3 linked regions of the Homo sapiens genome follow. The gene in region 1 interacts genetically with each later gene. Each region holds a gene or a part of one and is shown in the gene's direction. Other genes may lie near its edges.

Region 1 (5,144 bases):
CAAAGAGCTCAGATCCGGAGCGGGGGAAGCACAAAGGTAGATAGAAAGACTTCCGTACATATTTATAAATATTTACCCCAGTGTGGTACTTACAAAGGAATGAACGTGAAAGGCTATTTGAGCATAGACGAATAAACTGTTAATTTCTTTTAGACTTCCCTGAAGGGGTATGAATGTCAAGGAAGGATTCCCAGAGAGTATGATATTTGGACTGGACTTTGAAAAAATGACTAACAGGCAACCATGATGGTTATTCAAAGCAATTTCTGGTAACCTAATATAGGTGTCCATGAATTTGTCTAAATCTTTTTTTTGTTTTGTTTTTGTTTTTGTTTTGGTGAGACAGAGTTTCACTCTTGTTGGCTAGGCTGGAGTGCAATGGCGCGATCTCAACTCACTGCAATCTCCACCTCCCTGGTTCAAGCGATTGTTCTGCCTCAGCCTCCTGAGTAGCTGGGATTACAGGCATGCACCACTACACCCGGCTAATTTTGTGTTTTTAATAGAGACCAGGTTTCTCCATGTTGGTCAGGCTGCTCTGGAACTTCCTACCTCAGGTGATCCGCCCGGCTTGGCCTCCCAAAGTGCTGGGATTACAGGTGTGAGCCACCATGCCCGGCCCAAATTTGTCTAAATCTTTTAGGGGCAGTGTAGTTCACATAGGATTTTACAGCAGAAAGACCCAAGTCCAGAACTCTTATTATGTTACATAGACATAGATTCTTGGATTAGACATGATCCCAGATCATCTACTCAAGCCTCACCCACTCTGTCTTTTCAAATCCCTGCTGGGACTTTTTTTTTGAGATGCGGTCTTGCTGTGTTACCCAGGCTGGAGTGCAGTGGCATGGTCTGGGCTCACTGCAACCTCCGCCTCCCGGGTAGGTGGGACTACAGGTGCGTGCCACCATGCCCGGCTAATTTTGTATTTTTAGTAGAGACGGGGTTTCACTGTGTTGACCAGGCTGGTCTCAATCTCCTGACCTCGTGATCCGCCCATCTCGGCCTTCCAAAGTGCTGGGATTATAGGCATGAGCCCGGCCGGGACTTCTTAATACCCCCAGTGACAGCATGCGCAGAGCATCACTGTTTTGAAATTTTAGAATATTTATTAAGCTTAAACCTATTTTCCCACAACTTTTACCTGTGGGTGTTAGTCTTGTTTTCTGGAGGTTGTGTATCGCCTGTCTTCCTCATTAAACAGCTTACTTTCTTTTTAACTGTTCCTTTCCACATGCGAACTTCTGGTGTGTCCCAGGCCCTCTCATTGAACCTAGAACTGAGCGTCATACACTATTTTAATTGTCTTAGTGTGGGGTCTGTAAGTGAATTCCAAGAGAATTTGGATTCTCTAGGTCTGCTAGTGCAGGCCAGGATTTCACCAGCTTTTTAGGTGGTTTAAGAATTAGAACTTGTCATGGAGTGTATGACTTCCAAACTCCGGTAGCTTTCTAAATTATTACAAGATTTGATGAATGAATTTAAATGTGAATGTATTTATTTTTGAATGTCATTGTGGATATACATGGTAATTTAGGAAACTTGAAACAAGAAGTGACCAGGATACGTCAGTGATGGGGTCATATAATGGGAGACCCGGGAGGTGTGACAGAAGGAAGTAGTTTCTTTTTTTTTCTTTTTTTTTTTTTTTTTGAGATGGAATCTCGCTCTGTTGCCCAGGCTGGAGTGCAGTGGCATGATCTTGGCTCACTGCAACCTCTGCCTCCCGGGTTCAAGCTATTCTCCTGCCTCAGCCTCCTGAGTAGCTGGGATTACAGGCATGCGCCACCACACCGGGCTAATTTTTCTTTTGTATTTTTAATAGAGATGGGGTTTCACCATGTTGGTCAGGGTGGTCTCAAGCTCCTGACCTTGTGATCCGCCTGCCTTGGCCTCCCAAAGTGCTAGGATTACAGATGTGAGCCACCACGTCCGGGCTGGAAGTAGTTTCATGTCTGATCCCAGCTCTGCAGCTAGCTTTTGGACTGTGGACAAATCCTTTCACCTGTCAGGTCAGCTTTCTTATCCATAAAATGAGAGGATTGGATACATCAGAATCACCTGAAACTTGTACACATATCTAGTCCTAAACACTGAGATTTCTGATTCATTCATTTCCAATTCATTCTGATTGATTAGGTCAAGAAAGGCCATTCAGACAATAGCATTTTAAAAGATAAAGGCATCCCAGTTTGGTATTCATCGGCCCCTGTGAGAAACATTTGTTAGGAATGTGTCAGAGTTCTCCTTCTCCGGACTGAGTTTACTGAAGTTACGTTTTTGTCCTCAGATTACTTCTTTCCTATCCCTCCTTTAGTGTGACTTTGGAAAATCTCCTTGAAGGTCTTTGAGTCCCATTTCCTTCATGTATAAAACTTCTCCAAGTTATTAAGAGGGTGAAATGACAGAATGTATATAAAGGCAAACTTCCTGCTGCATTGCAGGCCTGCAATCACTGATGATTTTTCTCCCTTCTCTTTTCTACGCTGTAGCTTTTTATCTTTCCAGTTGTTAGATGCCTAATCTTCCCTGTTCACTTGCTCCTCCTTCCTGCAACACTCTTGTGTATATTTCCTTGATCATTGCTATCATCTTTCTCATTTTTATATGGTATCTGTAGAGAACACAGAACTCTGAATTCTTTGCTTGGGCCTCCTGGGGCTTTTCTGGTAGTGTCATTTCCCTTTCTGTGCAGTAGGATTGATGGGCATGCCTAAAAGACTTGGGATAAGCAATCCTCCCTTTTCTTCCCTAGACATCTCCAGTTACAGCCCGAACACTGGAAACTCTGATTCGACTGGCCACAGCCCATGCGAAGGCCCGCATGAGCAAGACTGTGGACCTGCAGGATGCAGAGGAAGCTGTGGAGTTGGTCCAGTATGCTTACTTTAAGAAGGTGAGGATTCAGATGCCTGGGCATGAGAGGATCTCCTGGATATATTACAGATGCATGGGCTTCCCAGCCTTCCGTGGCTGACGGCTACATTTGGATTGTCAACAGAAAGCAGTATTTGTCTTCCAGTCATCAGTCTGCCTCACTCTTTCCTCTGAAACACTCAGTGATTCTCAACCCTGACTGCACCAGAGAATCAGATGGAAAGCTTTAAAATGCTGATTCCAGGGCTCCTAGAGATTCTGGTTTAGTTGATGTGCTGTACTTTCAGTTAGCTGCTTCTCTGTCTACCCCTACTTCCTTTGCATCTTAAAAAAAAAAGTAGGTGTTTTCAAAAGAGCTACCTTGGTAATCTTCCTTGTCCCACTCTACCTTTCCTCTTGGTAGTCTCTTCAAATGTCCCATTGGCACCTCAGAAGCTCATGTTTAAAGTTGAACTCTCAAACTTGCCACTCATCCTGTTTCCCTATTTCTGTTTGTGACATTGCACCTCTGTCATTTTAGATATCAAGCCTCAAAGCCTAGACTCCCTTTTCCTAGTTGCCCACTCCCACCCCAGTCTGGTGAATGTTAGCCTTTTGGGGTTGAGTTGTGAGTCTAATAAACTCTTCCTTGCTTTTTGCTAGGTTAAGGGTTGAGTTGTGAGTCTGATAAACTCGTCCTCACTTTTTGCTAGGTTAAGGGTTGAGTTGTAAGTCTGATAAACTCTTCCTCGCTTTTTGCTAGGTTAAGGGTTGAGTTGTGAGTCTGATAAACTCTTCCTCGCTTTTTGCTAGGTTAAGGGTTGTCTTGGATTTCAATTAGACACCTGATTTATAAGGAAATGGATTGTTTTCACTTAACCATTATGGGCTAGACATTTGTTTCTTTATTCAGTAAACATTTATTGAGTACCTACTATATAAACAGCATTTAACATACTTCCCAGCATTTTGAAAAGATGGGTAGCAGTCTCTACTTCTGCCCCTGGTCCTGGGACTTAGGGACAAGAGGAGCTAGGTAAACCATTGGAAACATGGAAGTCTTTCCTGCTTATGATGCAGAAGGGACTGGGAGTTCTTGATGCAGTTCCCCTGCATCAGTGACCCCTCTAGCCCAGCCACACTTGCCTTGGTCTTAGGTTCTGGAGAAGGAGAAGAAACGTAAGAAGCGAAGTGAGGATGAATCAGAGACAGAAGATGAAGAGGAGAAAAGCCAAGAGGACCAGGAGCAGAAGAGGAAGAGGTAAGGTGGGGCAAGCAAATGAGATTAAAAAGTTAGTGGCCAAGAAGTTGGGGGTGCACGCCTGTAATCTTAGCAATTTGGGAGGCCGAGGCGGGTGGGTCACTTGAGTCCAGGAGTTTGAGACCAGCCTGGGAAATATGGCAAAACTGTCTCTACAAAAAATAGAAAAATTAGCTGGGCGTGGTGGCGGACACTTGTGGTCCCAGCTGCTCGGTAGGCTGGGGTCGGAGGATTGCTTGAGCCTGGGAGGCAGAGGTTGCAGTGAACCAGGATCGTGCCACTGCACTCCAGCCTGGGCGACAGAGAGAGATCCCATCTCAAAAAAAAAAAAAAAAAGTAGTAAGTTCCAGTGGGACTGGGGAGAGAAGTAGAGGGTAGAAGGTGGAACCAGCGCTGCTTATTGATGTCAGGTTGTTCATGGAGAGTGTTCCTAGACCTGCGGGGTTTGAGGATGAAGATAACCTGGGTAGGCTGGGCGCGGTGGCTCACGCCTGTAATCCCAGCACTTTGGGAGGCCGAGGCAGGCGGATCACGAGGTCAGGAGATCAAGACCATCCTGGCTAACAGTGAAACCCTGTCTCTACTAAAAATACAAAAAATTAGGCTGGCGTGGTGGCAGGCACCTGTAGTCCCAGCTACTTGGGAGGCTGAGGCAGGAGAATGGCGTGAACCCAGGAGGCAGAGCTTGCAGTGAGTGGAGATCACACCACTGCACTCCAGCCTGGGTGACAGAGTGAGACTCCGTCCGTCTCAAAAAAAAAAAAAAAAGAAGATACCCTGGGTAAAAGAGAAGGAGAGCGAGTCCTTCTTGTGTGCTTTTGACCCCTCTACTGAAGAAATGCTAAATAGTAGGAACAGCAACCCAACCACTGAGGGTTTTGAATATATACTTCAAAATTCTAAGGGAAAAACCTTCATGCTTATAGTTGAATTTATAAGGGTGAGTGATGTGGAAAAGAGCGTTGGGAAGCAGCGCCTGTTTGTGTTCTAGTCTGGGGACTTGGTCTCGTTTGGAACAAGCAGCAGT
Region 2 (4,625 bases), on another chromosome or scaffold:
TTCTGTTCTTTCTCAGGGTGCCCTGATTTCATATTGTTCAAACACACGTTTTACAAACAATTTGTACAGTTAATGCAGTGATCACAGGGTCCTGAGATGACATACATTGTCAGTTTATGAAGATGACGGGATTAAGAGATTAAAGACAGGCATAGGAAATTATAAGAGTATTGATTGGGGAAGTGATAAATGTCCATGAAATCTTCATAATTTATGTTCACAGATTGCAGTAAAGACAGGCGTAATAAATTATGAAAGTATTAATTTGGGGAACTAATAAATGTCCATGAAATCTTCACAATTTATGTTCTTCTGCTGTGGCTTCAGCCGGTCTCTCCATTCGGGGTCCCTGACTTCCCGCAACATCATCTATCTTATATCACTATAGAGGGTCGTTTGGTTTTCTCCAGCACATCTGGGCCTAGATTTGAATTGAAGTCTAGGAAGCAGATGGTTGCATTGATCTGAGGTTATGTATGGTCTTTTGCAGGGTGAGTGCACTGAAAGGAAAAGAGATAGAGGCCACACGGGAAAATGGCCAAACTGATGTATATAGTGATACAGTAGTAGGATATGTGTGACCCTGGTTTGATCATTTTGTTTTCTAGCTCAGAAATCTTCAGTGGCTCCCTGGCTTAGGTTCTAAATCTTTGAACTGATGGACAAAGATGAGGTTTTTCCCATAAAGCTGGTTCCAGCTGCTTTTCCATTGCTTTCCTGTTGGACTCATCTATTCATAATGGCTCCCTCTTTGGTTTTGCACTGGCAGTTCTCTGCTTAAATGCCCATCCTATTCCCAGCTGCCTTAATCCTATGCAGCTTTCAAAGGCCCAGTTCTAATCATGCTTCCTCAGACAAAACCTCCTTGACCACTTTAACCTGAAAAGAGTACTAGTTTTTTAGTTTTTTTCAGTATCACGTATTTAGAGCTTGTACTGCCTTATCTTTTACATTGTTTGTTCTATATTTGTGGATTTTATTTCTGCAACTACATTTCTTTTTTTTTTTTTTTTTTTGAGACGGAGTCTCACTCTGTCGCCCAGGCTGGAGTGCAGTGGCACGATCTCAACTCACTGTAACCTCCACCTCCCTGGTTCAAGTGATTCTCCTGCCTCAGCCTCCCGAGGAGCTGGGATTACAGGCACCCGCCACCACACCTGACTAATTTTTTGTTAGTTTTAGTAGAGACGGGGTTTCATCATGTTGGCCAGACTAGTCATGAACTCCTGACTTTGTGATCCACCCGCCTTGGCTTCCCAAAGTGCTGGGATTACAGGCGTGAGCCACCGCGCCTGGCCTCTGCATCTACATTTCTTAAATTTCTTTAGCGCTACCATTGCACCTGCACGCTATCTTTTGCCAGGAAGGTTCTCCCTAAGCATTTAGTAACTGACTATAGAGTCTGACAGATGGAGAGGAAATTAATATTTGGGGCGGGGGAGGGGTTCTGTTTGTTTTGTTTATTTGTCTTTTGAGACAGGGTCTCACTCTGTTACCCAGGCTGGAGTGCAGTGGCACAATTTCAGCTCGTTGCAACTTCAACCTCCTGGGCTCAAGTGATCCTCCTGCCTTAGCCTCCTGGGTAGCTGGGACTAAAGGTGTACATCAGCATGCCCGGCTGATTTTTGTGTTTTATTTTTTGTGGAGACTGGGCTTCGCTATGTTGCCCAGGCTGGTCTCAAACTCCTGGACTCAAGTGATCCTCCCACCTCAACCTCCCAAAGTATTAGTATTACAGGCGTGAGCCACCATGTCCAGCCAGGGATTCTTACTTTGTGCTCAGCACTGGGTAGAGTGCTTAATATCACTGCTTCTCAAACTGTCTTGGTAAAGGACCAGGTAGATTTTTCCCTCAAGCTGTTGCAGATCAGTAGTGTTCTAAAAGCACTTCTGTAAAATAAAATTACTAGAAAAATAACATTTAAAAAGACATAGAGAATACAGGCTTTTTATTATTATCATCATTAGATTCAACAAACATTGGCTGGGTGCAGTGGCTCATGCCCGTAATCCCAGCACTTTGGGAGGCCGAGGTGGGTGGATCACTTGAGGCCAGGAGTTCAGCAGCCTAGGCAACATGGCGAAACCCCATCTCAACTACAAAACACAAAAAAATTAGCCTGGCATGGTGGCACAGGCCTGTAATCCCAGCTACTTGGGAGGCTGAGGCACGATAATAGTTTGAACCCGGGAGGCAGAGGTTACAGTGAGCCAAGATCACGCCACTGCATTCCAGCCTGGGTGACAGAGGGAGACCCTGTCTCAAAACAAAACTGTAAACTGCCTGTCAAATTGCCCTAAGATGTTCTAAGTGCTAATGCTTTCTTTCTGTACTTACCTTGATGCAGACTGCTAATAGTTTGTGGATTGGCAGTGGTCTGAAGACCAAGGTTTGAGTAGCATTGCTTTACATGATCTCATTTACACTTCCCTAATATCTTGTGAGGGTGGGTATTATTATTATTTCCTCAGTATACTGATAAGGAAAGAGATTTAGTTAAGCCACCTGCTCAAGTTCACCAGTTTAGTACCAGACAGAATTGGAATTCAAGTGCTAGATGCCATTTTGTTCATACTACTGGGTCTCAAAGAGGATCCTTGGAGCAGAGTTGGTTTGGGGCAGGTAGAGTGTTTTGTTTCGTCTTCAAAAAGTAAGTTTATTTGGTCGGGCGCAGTGGCTCATGCCTGGTATCCCAGCACTTTGGGAGGCCCAGGTGGGCAGATCATGAGGTCAGGAGTTTGAGACCAGCCTGGCCAATATGGTGAAACCCCATCTCTACTAAAAATACAAAAATTAGCTGGGCATGGTGGCGCGTGCCTGTAGTCCCAGCTACTTGGGAAGCTGAGGCAGAAGAGTTGCTTGAATCCAGGAGGTGGCGGTTGCAGTGAGCTGAGATCGTGCCACTGCACTCCAGCCTGGGCGACAGAGCAAGACTCTGTCTCAAAAAAAAAAAAAAAAAAAAAAAGGTTAATTTGAATTGCAAATACATTTAATATTTTATCTGTTGTTTTCTTTTGGTTCTTGCATTTTAATGCCTCCAAGTATTGATTTCAGATGCATATTGCTTCATCTGAACTGCTTGATACTTAGTTGAGTAGGAAAAGTAACTAACATCCCTTTTAAATGTCCAGTTCCATTGGCTCTGTGGTGTTTGACAAAGTTCTCACCTGGTCTATGATGAAATGTGAAAATAAAGTCAATGTAATGAATTTTTTCATGAAGTCATATTTATTAAATTTGAAGGACAGTATTTTATCCTGAGATTTTTGTCTGTAGTTTTTTTGGTGTTAAAATGGTAGAAACAGAATGCGTATAGTAATTGTGTGGAGTGTTGTTTATAACGGCTGTTTGAGATATAATTCATATACTGTAAAATTCACCCTTTTAAAGTGTACAATTCAGGCTAGGTGTGGTGGTTCACACCTGTAATCTCAGCACTTTGGGAGGCCAAGGCAGGAGGATTGCTTGAGGCCAGTCAGGAGTTTGAGACCAGTGTGGGCAACATAGGGAGGTACCAGCTCTACACAAATTTAAAAATTAGCCAGATGTGGTATTGAATGCCTGTGGTCCCAGCTGCTTGGGAGGCTGAGGTGGGAGGATTGCTTGGGCCAAGGAGTTGAGGCTATAGCGAGTCATGATTGATCTGTACTCCAACCTGGGCTGGTCAACAGAGTGAGACCCTGTCTCAAAAGAAAAAAAAAAAAAAAGAAAACCCCTGTACAATTCTGTGATTTTTAGTATATTCAGAGAGTTGTACAACCATTTCTGCCCACCTCAGCCTCCTAAAGTGCTGGGATTACAGGCGTGAGCCACTGTGCCCATATCAGCCTATTGCATTTGCCTATTCTGGACATTTCATATAAATTCCATCATACAATATATGACCTTTTGTGTTTGGCTTCTTTTTTTTTTTTTTTTTTTTTTTTTTTTTGAGAAGGAGTTTTCACTCTTGGTGCCCAAGCTGGAGTGCAGTGGCACGATTTGGGCTCACTGCTACCTCCACCTCCAGGGCTCAAGCGATTCTCCTGCCTCAGCCTCCCGAGTAGCTGGGATTACAGGCGCCCGCCACCATGCCCAGCTAATTTTTTTGTATTTTTAGTAGAGACAGGGTTTCACCATGTTGGCCAGGCTGGTCTCAACTCCTGACCTCAGGGTGATCTGCCCACCTTGGCCTCCAAAAGTGCTGGGATTACAGGTGTGAGCCACTGCACCCGGCTGTGTTTGGCTTCTTTCACTGAACATGTTTTCAAGTTTCATCTACTTCATGGCATGTATCAGTCAGTATTCCATTCCTTTTTTTTTTTTTTTTTTTTTTTTTTTTGAGACAGAGCTTTGCTCTGTCATCTAGGCTGGAGTGCGGTGGCGCAATATCAGCCCATTGCAGCCTCCACCTCCCAGGCTCAAGTAATTCTCCCACCTCAGCTTCTCTAGTAGCTAGGACCACAAGCACACACCACCACACTCGGATAATTTCATTTTTTAAATTTTTTGTAGAGACGAGGTCTCACTATATTGCCCAAACTGGTCTTAAACTCCTGGGCTCAAGTGATCCTCCCGCCTTGGCCTCCCAAAGTACTGGGATTTCAGGCGTGAGCCACTGAACCTGGCTGTGCCCTTTTTAAAT
Region 3 (4,625 bases), on another chromosome or scaffold:
GCCAGGAGTTTGAGAACTGCCTGGGCAACATGGCGAAACCCTGTCTCTACTAAAAATACAAAAATTAGTGGGGTGTGGTGGCACACGCCTGTAGTCCCACCTACTCGGGAGGCTGAGCCATGAGAGCCGCTTGAACCTGGGAGGCGGAGGTTGAAGTGAATGGAGATCATGCTACTGCACTCCAACCTGGGGGACAGAGCGAGACTGTGTCTCAGAAAAAGACAAAAAAAAAAAAAAGATAATGTGGCCAGGTGCAGTGACACACACCTGTAATCCCGGCTCTTTAGGAGGCCAAGGCAGGAGGATTGCTTGAGCCCAGCAGTTTGAGAGCAGTGTGGGCAACATAGTGAAACCCCATCACTACAAAAAATTTAAAAATTAGCAAGGCATGGTGGCACATGCCTGTGGTCCCAGCTACTTGGGAGGCTGAGGTGAGAGGATCACTTGAGCCTAGGAGGTCGAGGCTGCAGTGAGCTGTGATCACACCACTGCACACTAGCCTTGGGGACAGTAAGACCCTGTCACACACACAAAAAAGATAATCTGGCAAAATTAATATGAGCAGCATTTTTCACTCGAAGGGAAACCTAAATAAGCAATAAGCAAGTTATGTTTTAATCATAAGACTTACTTGGAAAATTAAGTATAAGACCATAGTAAGCTACAGATGCTTCTCAGATACTTCCCGATAAACTCATCATAAATAAAAAATACCATTAAGTAAAAAATGATGCTTTTTTTGTTGTTGTTTTTTTGAGATGGAGTTTCGCTCTTGTTGCCCAGGCTGGAGTGCAGTGCAACTGCAATCTCTGCCTCCTGGGTTCAAGCGATTCTCCTGCTCAGCCTCTCGAGTGGCTGGGATTACAGGCGTCTGCCACCACGCCCAGCTAATATTTGTATTTTAGTAGATACAGGGTTTCACCTTGTTGGCCAGGCTGGTCTCAAACTCCTGACTTCGGTTGATCCACCCGCCTCGGCCTCCCAAAGTGTTGGGATTACACATGTGAGCCACCACGCCCAGCCAAAAATGCATTTTAATATAACCTCAATAAACCTGTTGTAAAGGTGAAAAATCATTGGTGGACCATTTTAAATTAGCGGCTGTCTACTATTTTGCACTCACTAGTTGGCAAAGCGTTAATTTTAGGAAGTGTTAACATGCCATTGTTGGGAGTGACTATCAGAGCTTTGAAATTATAGTTGGGTGGGGGGTTGTACAAAGGATTTCTGTAAGATAACTTTCATTAATCATATACTTGAGGAAATACTGGAAACTTTTATATCCATGAGTTATTAAACAGTTTTTAGGATAACTTTATTAATAAAAGAGAATCTCAGCTTAATACTTTCAAATTGTTTGTTAACACTCTGTTCAGCAGTAAAGAGCCATTCTACCATGAAAAAAAGTTAATCTTGTTCATTGCTGAATTTCTATCCCCTAGATGGGGACTCTGCACCTGAGGTATATAATAATGTTTGTTGAACAGGTAGCTGCAGGTGTAAACACAAACATTATTCTGGTGTTAGAATGTTATCCAGGTTGTAAGTGAAAACCACTCACCTGTTTCTTGAGCAGAGGTTTTAACATTGAAATGTGCAGAGCCTCGCTGATAGGAATGGATGTAGGTCTGCTAAAATTTAACCTTGCTTACATTGCTGTTGAAATTGGGATGCAAGCTGTCCAAGCACATTGTGTTAAACTTTTAAGTTTATAGTCATTTATCCGTTATTCACTTTTTTTTTTTTTTTTTTGAGACGGAGTCTTGCTCTGTTGCCCAGGCCGGAGTGCAGTTGTGCAGTCTCGGCTCACTGCAACCTCCATCTCCTGGGTTCAAGCGATTCTCCTGCCTCAGCTTCCCGAGTAGCTGGGATTACAGGCGTGCGCTACCACGCCTGGCTAATTTTTATATTTTTGGTAGAGACGAGGTTTCACCATGTTGGTCAGGCTGGTCTCGAACTCCTGACTTTGTGATCTGCCTGCCTCAGCCTCCCAAAATGTTGGGATTAAAGGTGTGAGCCACTGCGCCCAGCCAGTTGTTCAGTCTTTATCTCTGCTAAATATTTGGAATATTCTAAATTACATGTTTGTTTAGAATGCTTTGTTATACAGAAGTATTTACTATTCTTAAATTATAGCCAGTTGTTTGGGGAAGAAGATGCTGATCAAGAAGTATCTCCTGACAGAGCTGACCCTGAAGCTGCCTGTGAGTAAATTATTTGGCATATGTTTTATCAGATACTATTATCTTTATTTTGTTGATTTAATTTTGGTAGCTTAAGGGAAAAAAATTGCTATATGTGCTAGGTAATGTGTGTTTAACATGTGTTTTTTTTTTGTTTTTTTTTTTTTTTTTTTTTTTTGTCTCAGAGGTGGAGTTTCTCTCTTATTGCCCAGGCTGGAGTACAATGGTATAATCTCGGCTCACTGCAACCTCCGCCTTCTGGGTTCAAATGATTCTCCTGCCTCAGGCTCCTGAGTAGCTGGGATTACAGGCACCTGCCACCGCGCCCAGCTAATTTTTGTATATTTAGTAGAGACAGGGTTTCACCATGTTAGCCAGGCTGGTCTCGAACTCTTGACCTGAGGTGATCCACCCGCCTTGGCCTCCCAAAGTGCTGGGACAGGCGTAAGCAACCGTGCCTATCCAAAACAATGTTTTACAAAAAAAATATGATTCCGTTTTACTGATGAGGAAATCAAGGTTAAGAGAAATTTCACAAGTCTAGTAAATAGAGCTGCGAGTTGTTCCTAGATCTCATGACTGGTCTGTGCTTTGAACTGTTATATGTGTAGCTTTCAGAAACTAAGTTACAACAGGCCAGGCAAGGTGGCTCACGCCCGTAGTCCCAGCATTTTGGGAGGCTGAAGCAGCTGGATTGCATGAGGTCAGGAGTTTGAGACCAGCCTGGCCAACATGGCAAAACCCTGTCTCTACAAAAAATATAAAAATTAGCCAGGCATGGTGGTGCATACCTGTAGTCCCAACTACTTGTGAGGTTGAGACGGGAAGATGGCTTGAGCCCAAGAGGTAGAAGCTACAGTGAGCCGAGATCTTAACACTGCACTCCAGCCTGGGCAACAGAGTGAGACTTTGTCTCCAAAAACAAGAAAGAAAGAAACTGGGATACAAAAAGATGCTGATGAATGTGTTATTTTCTTATTCCTTGAACTCAGAATGTGTTGCATTTGGGGATTTCCATGAGTGACTTTCTTTTTATTCCCAAAGGTGAGTGAAAAGAGTTCAGTTCTACATTTATTACGGTTGAAAATAAAATAATGATCGTTTTATAGGGGAACCAACGGAAGCCGAAGCCAGAGCTAGAGCATCTAATGAAGATGGTGACATTAAACGTATTTCTACTAAGGAATGGGCTAAATCAACTGGATATGATCCAGTTAAACTTTTTACCAAGGTTAGATTTACTTTTTTTATAATCATGGATAGATGTATTGTTGTGCATAGATGTATTGTTCTAGTTCTGCTTGTTTTAAAATAGTCCATAAAATTGAATTAAGCTTCTATGTATATGCCTTGTGATGTCCTAATAAAATGATTGATGCAGTCAGGATATGCAAGTTTTAAAATGTTACCATCTACACTAAATCTATCAGTATAACATCTAAATAGGAGGTAAAATGAGAGGTGGCTTGTATACCTTCTTGGTTGTCTTTCCTTCTCTCACTTTTTACAGAACTTCTTCGTTTTCCTGCTGCTTCTCATCTTCACTTTTTTTTTTTTTTTTTTTTTGAGATGGAGTCTCACTCTTGTCGCCCAGGCTGGAGTGCAGTGGCACGATCTCGGCTCACTGCAGCCCCGCCTCCTGGGTTCAAGTGATTCTCCTGCCTCAGCCTTCCGAGTAGCTGGGATTACAGGTGTGTACCATCAGGCCTGGCTAATTTTGTATTTTTAGTAGAAGCGGGGTCTCACCATGTTGGCCAGGTAGGTCATGAACTCCTGACTGCAAGTGATCTGCCCACCTTGGCTTCCCAAAGTGATGGGATTATAGGCGTGAGCCACTGCTCCTGGCTTCATGTTCACTTTTATTTCTTGCTCATATCTGCTATTAGCAGTTTGACTGACATGTGTCCTAAATTGCCCTTGAACCCCATAAGCCCCTTTTTCTTGGTGAAATCCCTCTTCATCAGTAGTATATACTATTTGCCTGTTAAATATTTCTAGAGAAATCTGTGAAATTGTTTTTATTGGGTCTACCTAATTATTGTTCATCTAGACCCGTAGGTCCGTGTTTTAAAAGTTTTTTTGTTCTGTCTTGACTCCCTAGCAAGTTGTACGTGTGTGGGGTTTTTTTGACTCTTTTTTTCCTTTTTGTGGAGAATGGGGTCTCACCATGTTGCCCAGGCAGATCTCAAACTCCTGGTTTCAAGTCTCAAACTCCTGGGTTCAAGCGATCCTCCAGCCTCTGCCTCCCTAAGTGCTGGGATTACAGGCATGAACCACTGAGCCTAGCCCCTAGCAAGTTTATCACAGAGCTTAAAACTTTCTCAGCTCTTATCAAACTGCCTCAGTATTCTTGCAACTCTCACTAAGCAGATGACCTTAAGGATATAATAACAGGTTTGAAACCATTGGACATAATTTACCTGTTGAGAGACTGTTCCACAT

The links.
Region 2: changes in MCM3 (region 1) and TIMELESS together harm fitness more than expected from each alone (negative genetic interaction), as found in Homo sapiens cells (one large-scale study listed by BioGRID).
Region 3: changes in MCM3 (region 1) and UBA2 together harm fitness less than expected from each alone (positive genetic interaction), as found in Homo sapiens cells (one large-scale study listed by BioGRID).

The regions. Positions count from the first base shown.
Region 1 is NC_000006.12:52,266,838-52,271,981, reverse strand, and holds part of MCM3 (DNA replication licensing factor MCM3), read left to right. Parts: intron 1-2,755; coding exon 2,756-2,896; intron 2,897-3,975; exon of another isoform or gene 3,976-4,013; coding exon 4,014-4,117; intron 4,118-5,144. UniProt on the Homo sapiens protein: Acts as a component of the MCM2-7 complex (MCM complex) which is the replicative helicase essential for 'once per cell cycle' DNA replication initiation and elongation in eukaryotic cells.
Region 2 is NC_000012.12:56,438,475-56,443,099, reverse strand, and holds part of TIMELESS (protein timeless homolog), read left to right. Parts: intron 1-4,625. UniProt on the Homo sapiens protein: Plays an important role in the control of DNA replication, maintenance of replication fork stability, maintenance of genome stability throughout normal DNA replication, DNA repair and in the regulation of the circadian clock.
Region 3 is NC_000019.10:34,441,708-34,446,332, forward strand, and holds part of UBA2 (SUMO-activating enzyme subunit 2), read left to right. Parts: intron 1-2,136; coding exon 2,137-2,204; intron 2,205-3,292; coding exon 3,293-3,414; intron 3,415-4,625. UniProt on the Homo sapiens protein: The heterodimer acts as an E1 ligase for SUMO1, SUMO2, SUMO3, and probably SUMO4. It mediates ATP-dependent activation of SUMO proteins followed by formation of a thioester bond between a SUMO protein and a conserved active site cysteine residue on UBA2/SAE2.